2 linked regions of the Homo sapiens genome follow. The protein of the gene in region 1 purifies or fractionates together with the protein of each later gene. This does not show direct contact. Each region holds a gene or a part of one and is shown on either strand. Other genes may lie near its edges.

Region 1 (3,500 bases):
AGGGATTGTCGAGTGCTGATGAAATCTCCTTCCTCAGTCAGGCTATGGAAAGCAAGCACATCCCCATCTGTGCCTCTGTTTTTCCCACTAGTAGTCATAGACTAGAGGGTTCAGAGGCGTGACTCAGAGTTTTATCTGCAGAAGTCAGAGCTGGGCAGGTGGATCTCACCATCTGCTCTGATTTGTTTACTGGCTATATTATAGCAGTGGAAAACTGTGTGTCCAGTCCTCTTAGGAAAAGTCCCAAAAGGATATTTTAAAAATCCTCTGCATACAGCTGAGCTGTCCTGCACAGCAGCCAGTAGCCACATGTGACCCTCAAGCCCGTGGAATGTTGCTAGTGCTACTGAGGAACTGAATTTTTAAATTTTAACTATTTGAATTAACCTTTACTAAATTCAGTTATTTGAAAATGTTAAAGTATGTTTGGAGCAACTTGAATGCATGAATCTGCTTTTTCAACTATAAATTTTATGATCTCTAAGTACAGATTAAATATTTTGGATGAAAATTTAGCACCTGAATGGAGATGTGTAAATGTAAATTACATAGCAGATTTCAAGTACTTATTATGAAAAGCACAATGTAAAATATCTCAATAATTTTTGTATAGATTACAAGTTGGGATGATTAATTAGATTAAAGGAGATCTATTAAAATTAACTTCATTCGTTTAGTTTTACTTTAAGGTGACTTCTTTTAAAAGTTTAAAATTAAGTATGTGGCTCACCTTATATTTCTATTGGTTAGTGCTGGTATAGAGTATTTTTAGTACAGAGGGTGGGTGCTGGAAGTCCCAACCACAAATCATTCTGAGGACCCTTCCTATGCAAAGAGCAAAGCAGGCAATGTTTTTTGCGTGTATTGACACCTTGTTTTCTGGGGCCCCAGTTCCGTCATGCCCCCTCCACTACTCTCTCACTATCCTCGCTAGGAAAATACCAAGTATTACCATATACAACATCTTAGTGAGCAGTTGGTGTGGGGATCTGCTTCACTTTGGGCGTTTTCATTTTATATTTAATCTTAAACACAAGAATGAAATGTGGAGTACGGAGTTTTGGGACCTCAGGAGGGAGAAAGTGGGTGCATCTGGGGTCCTCAGATTTACAAGCCAGCCCTGATATCCCCAGTTCCTTCCCAATCTTGCCTGTGACTTCCTGGTTCAGTTTCTCTAAAAAATATCACCGTGGGTCTTTTCTTCTTCTAATTCCCACAGGGTGAAAAAGGTGACCTGGGTATGATGGGCTTGCCAGGGTCAAGAGGACCAATGGGCTCCAAGGTCAGTGTGGGGTCCAAATGGACGTTCCCAGATCTCTGTCAGGCTCTGGAGCAGCTGCTGTCTACAAACATAGGGACTGGGTGGGGCTGCAGTCCCGGACTAGGGAATGTCGCGGATATTGGAGAGCCTGCCTTTACCAGCCCTTTGGAGAACATCATGCCCTGGGATGCAGGGGCATAGGGATGCCATTCCTGCTGTTCTCTTGGGCAGGAAGAACCAAGCTTCTGGACATCAGAGCAGATGGAAACCTTTGATCAGGACTTTGCAGAGTGATAAAAGCAATGTTCCTTTTAGGCCTGGTATAACCACAACCCTCTGGGACATCTTTGTGTTTGGTGCTGCAACCCCACTAAAACTCACAGTGCAATGTGGAGACATACCTTACCACCACATTCAGGGATTCCTTCTATTCTTCCACCAAACTCAGAAGTCCTACAGGGCTGATTGTAAATGTACCTTCTGCTTTCTTTTAGGGCTACCCTGGATCCAGAGGGGAAAAGGTTAGTGCTTTTCTTGGATGGTGTCCTAGAGCCTGGTCTGGGCTACTGGCTCTGGAATCAGAGACATGCAGAGAATGGGTCCAGGTCTCTCTTTAGTCTGCAACTGAAGCCACCATCCCTAGCTATTCCCCACCCTTTGTCAGTGGACTGAGAGAGAAGTGAGGGACCTCCTGAAGCAGGGCAAGCTGGTAAGAGAAGGGCTCCCCATAGAGGCAGAGGCCCCTCGTGTGGAGCACATAAGCAAATGAAGGCCGTGCCAGGTAGAGAATAAGCACAGTTTGCACAGAGTGCTGGAGGAAATTGGTGATGCATGTCTTTAGGCCAAGCTTTCACCACCACACAACCTTCTGACCTGGCCAAAAACCAAATCAAAACAGCATCAACCTGTGGACAAATTTCCTACAGGATGAGAGAGGATTTGGGGCCCAGAATTTTCCGTGAGTTGTCCTTTATGAATGCAAGAGGTCTTTGGGGTTCAACAAGAAGTAGATCACAAAGCATTCCTTCCCTGGAGAAGTCACCTGACATATCTGAGCCTATTTCTTCACTTGTAAAATGAGGGTTTTGGTTTAGGGAGCTTTTCAGTTTGAAATGCTTGAATTTCCCTCCCAGGATATTAACTCATTGACTTTCTCCTATGGTTTCTTCCTAGGGATCCAGAGGTGAAAAGGGTGACCTGGGTCCCAAAGGAGAAAAGGTAATGGAGAAAACCTTTCCATAGAAATGATAAATGTCAGTGCAAGTAGCAGCCCCCACCCACCCCCATCCGTGGACTGATGATGGACTGATGGACAGGCCTCCATCTTGAAAATGACCAACAAAGCCTGTCCACAGCCATTTCAGGTGTTATTTCAGAGGTGATCACAATTATTTGTTGCTCTTTTCACAGGGTTTCCCAGGATTTCCTGGAATGTTGGGGCAGAAAGTAAGTAACCTTGAGGTAGTGAAAATAGGCCTCAATAAAAATATCAGGTCCTCCAAGCACAACAAAAAGAACTCTGCCTCCTTGTCTATCAGGCAGGGATGGTGGGTTTAACCATGGAAACTTCTATTTTGGGACGGGAAGCAAGTTGCTTTTCACCCTGGGGAGAGGGTGGCAGGATGGTCTGGAGCCTCCCTCTAGCTCAATGGGAAGGAAAGGACAACCCATCTGGGTTTTGGGTTTTTGTTTGTTTGTTTGTTTTTTTGCTTTTTTGCTTTTCCTACCTCTTAGAGGGCTGTGGTCCTATTCAAATGCAGAAACCTTTCTCACAGGGGACTCAGATCTGAGCCACAACGGTCAAAGCCCCTGTCAGCACACAGGCCTCAGTGTAAGGCACAGGTGTCTTTAGCTTAAGGTCACTGTGCCTTATTGCAGTCCTTCTTCAAGGGCGGTGCACATACTGCCAGAAGGACACAAAAGTATTTGAACTGAAGACTGCTAACATTGTTTAAGAGTTAAATTTTGTATTTAAATAGTTAAATATTGGCCAGGCATGGTGCCTCATGCCTGTAATCCCAGCACTTTGGGAGGCCGAGGTGGGCAGATGGCTTGAACCCAGGAGTTCGAGACTAGCCTGGGCAACATGGTGAAATCCCATTTCTACCAAGAAAAATATACAAAACATTAGCTGGGCATGGTAGTTCGCACCTGTAGTGCCAGATACTTAGGAAGGTGAGGCGGGAGGGTGGCCTGAGCCCAGGAGTCAAAGCTGCGGTAAGCCATGATTGCACCACTG
Region 2 (3,500 bases), on another chromosome or scaffold:
CTAAAAATACAAAAATTAACCAGGTGTGGTGGTGTATGTCTGTAATCCCAGCTTCTCAGGAGGCTGAGGCGCTAGAATCACTTGAACCCAGGAGGTGGAGGTTACAGTGAGCTGAGATCATGCCACTGCCCTCCAGCCTGGGCTGTCTGTCTCAAAAAAAAACTCTGTCTCAAAACAAAACAAAACAAAAAGTAAGTTGTGTTTATTTGAAAACTGTTAGCCCTACAAAAAAGTGCAAGAACCTAGGCCAGGCACGGTGGCTCATGCCTGTAATCCCAGCACTTCGGGAGGCCGAGGCGGGCAGATCACCTGAGGTCAGCAGTTCAAGACCAGCCAGACCAACATGACAAAACCCCATCTCTACTAAAAACACAAAATTAGCCAGGCGTGGTGGCGCATACCTGTAATCCCAGCTACTCTGGAGGCTGAGGCAGGAGAATTGCTTGAACCCTGGAGGCGGATGTTGCAGTGAGCCAAGATCGCACTATTGCACTCTAGCCTGGGCAACAAGAGTGAAACTCCGACTCAAAAAAAAAAAAAAAAAAAAGTGCAAGAATCTGTCACTAATGGGGGGGGAAGAAAAGTACAAGAAAATCATAATGAACTCCTAGATATCTTTCATCTAGATTAAGAGTTAAATGTTTTTTGGCCAGGCACAGTGGCTCACACCTGTAATCCCAGCACTTTAGGAGGCCGAGTTGGGAGGATTGCTTGAGGTTAGGAGTTGGAGACCAGCCTGGCCAACATGGTGAAACCCCGTCTTTACTAAAATACAAAAATTAGCTGGGCACAATGTAATCCCAGCTACTAGGGAGGCTGAGGCAAGAGAATCACTTGAACCCAGGAGGTGGAGGTTGCAGTGAGCTGAGATTGTGCCACTGCAGTCCAGCCTGGGCAACAGAGTGAGACTCTGTCTCAAAAAAAGAAAAAAAGAGCTAAATGTTTTTAAATTTCCAGAGCTAAATATTTTGTAAAGACCATTTACAAAAGGCCTTCATTTTATAGTGGTACCCAGGTCACCCCTTTCCATCCATAACCTGAGGAACAGGAAATTAGGACCCCTGTGAAGGTGGCTGAGGGCAAGGAGAGAGGGTTCCTCCTCTGTGGCCTGCATTTGAGTGCTCCTTCTTCCCAGTAGCAAGAATTTCGACTGGGAGTGCGACTCTACTCAGAGGAACAGCCACAGGAAGCTGTGCCCCACCTAGAGGCGGCGCTGCAAGAATACTTTGTGGCCTATGAGGAGTGCCGTGCCCTCTGCGAAGGGCCCTATGACTACGATGGCTACAACTACCTTGAGTACAACGCTGACCTCTTCCAGGCCATCACAGGTGCGTGCAGTTCAGAGCCAGACCTTCAGCCAGGCCTCCTGGGACTCTAAGGTCACCATCTGATAATATAAATGGGGACTCTTCACCCTCATTCCTCAATTTATTAAATCTGAGAAGCTGATGAAAAATTGCTTCCATTTGAATTTGTTCATCTTAACCAGAATTTGAGTTCTAAAGAGTGACCTCATAGTTATTCCTTCTGTTTGATTCCTTTCAGATCATTACATCCAGGTCCTCAACTGTAAGCAGAACTGTGTCACGGAGCTTGCTTCCCACCCAAGTCGAGAGAAGCCCTTTGAAGACTTCCTCCCATCGCATTATAATTATCTGCAGTTTGCCTACTATAACAGTAAGGCCTACTTTCCTTCCTCTTTCTCTGCTGGCTAACTAAGAAGCTAAAGGCAAGGTGGGCAGGGATTACAGCCACTTACTTCCTCAAGGTGTTTGGCTTATTTCAGTAGCTATGGGAGGCACCATGCCAAGTGATCCCTGGGTAGTTTGTTATAAACAACTGGCCTAGGAAGCCAATACCAGCAACCCAAAAAGCTGGGGGAGGGAGACTTAGGACCTCATCTCTTGTCCCTTCTATAACTTGTAATCTATTTTTGCTTTTGAATTAAAGTTAATAGCAAAATAAGGGTATGCCACAGTTTAAACTAGCTCAGAGGACATTTGCTAGCCCTCTCCCTGGTATAGCACTGATGCTTTTGTGGGGCTGCCAATTAATACCCAGAAAACCAACTCTTTGCAGAGTCCCTACTGTGTGCTAAGCATTACAAACATATTGATGAGTGTACAATATTTACAGTTGAGTTGAGATGACTAACAAATATCAACAAGAACTATTTTGCCAAAGAGACAATCTGCTATTGTAATCTTCCTTGTCTTCTGAAAATCTATAGAAAAAAGAAGGTAGGAAGACAGGGAAATTGATCTAATGATTGAGTGTATTGAGGCAAAATATTAAGGAGTATTGGAATTATTTGTGAATCTTAAAAGATGTGGGCATGCAGAGAATTCTGATTCTTTTCTGTTTCATTGTTAGGCAGCCCTGAGGACATTGACCACCTCACCTTAAAATTAATCACACATTCTATGTGTATTACTTAACTCCTGCCCCTGAAATCAGGCCATCATGTTAAGTAGCAGGCACCAGCTTGTCATGCTGCCATTGCCTCAAGCTTTGTGGAGACTGAACACTAAGTGGTCCCTGGTGCTAGGATTTTATCCTTTCCTTTTGACTCTTTCCTCTCAGCCATTCTTCTTTCCACTTTGCAGTTGGGAATTATACACAGGCTGTTGAATGTGCCAAGACCTATCTTCTCTTCTTCCCCAATGACGAGGTGATGAACCAAAATTTGGCCTATTATGCAGCTATGCTTGGAGAAGAACACACCAGATCCATCGGCCCCCGTGAGGTGAGAGACTTCCTTCTGTTATGACAGCTGCCAGCTGAACTCAGACCTGAGGGCGGAAGAGTGGGGTAGCAGAGGGGAGTAGGCGCTGTGCGTGCAGGGCAGGGGCCAGATGTCAGTGTTGGGGCCAGATGTGAGTTCAGTCACTCGGCTTGTTATTCAGAGGAGAAGGGAGCACAGGGAGGGAGTGTGGGGAGTACACAGGAGCCTCAATTAGCGTTATCTGGGCCCAGAAGTCTATTCTCTGAGTCCCGCAGAACTGCGCGGTGAGCATATTCTTTCCCCTCTTGGCACCCCTAACTTGGACACTCGATATTATTTGGCCAAGAGCTATCATTTTTCACTTAATACTGGTTGTTTTTTTTCTGCTCACCTGTTTTCTGTCTCCATTTTCTTTCCCATCTCTTCTTCTTCCTGCCATTGTTTGTTCTCTCCCATCTTTCAGCATTTTCCCTGTCTCTCTCCAAAACCAGGAGAAATATCTGTATAACACAAAGACTGCTGCGCTGAAAGGAGACACCCAGGCTCTTCTTCCGAGCTCTGGAGTCTGAGAGCCTCCAGTAGAAACAGCCTCTTGCTGCCCCTCCTGTGTGGGTTGTCATTGTAGTTGTCCTCTTTAGCCACTAGATGGTGACCATCTGGCTTTAAGATGGCACTTCCGGTCTCTTTTGTCTTGTTTGGTTAATACCTTTTCCCTGCCTTCCTTATGGCCATTAAGGGGAGTCTGAGGGGAGTGAGGGGAAATAAACCCACGTGG

What was found. Proteins that work in one complex are often made in the same cells at the same time.
Region 2: the proteins of COLQ (region 1) and P3H1 purify together in Homo sapiens (affinity purification with mass spectrometry; 2 studies listed by BioGRID and IntAct, with this or other methods). This does not show direct contact.

Annotation. Positions count from the first base shown.
Region 1 is NC_000003.12:15,473,207-15,476,706, reverse strand, and holds part of COLQ (acetylcholinesterase collagenic tail peptide isoform I precursor), read left to right. Parts: intron 1-1,219; coding exon 1,220-1,282; intron 1,283-1,755; coding exon 1,756-1,782; intron 1,783-2,434; coding exon 2,435-2,479; intron 2,480-2,671; coding exon 2,672-2,707; intron 2,708-3,500. UniProt on the Homo sapiens protein: Anchors the catalytic subunits of asymmetric AChE to the synaptic basal lamina.
Region 2 is NC_000001.11:42,757,029-42,760,528, reverse strand, and holds part of P3H1 (prolyl 3-hydroxylase 1 isoform 1 precursor), read left to right. Parts: intron 1-1,138; coding exon 1,139-1,328; intron 1,329-1,545; coding exon 1,546-1,677; intron 1,678-2,606; coding exon 2,607-2,746; intron 2,747-3,500. UniProt on the Homo sapiens protein: Basement membrane-associated chondroitin sulfate proteoglycan (CSPG). Has prolyl 3-hydroxylase activity catalyzing the post-translational formation of 3-hydroxyproline in -Xaa-Pro-Gly- sequences in collagens, especially types IV and V.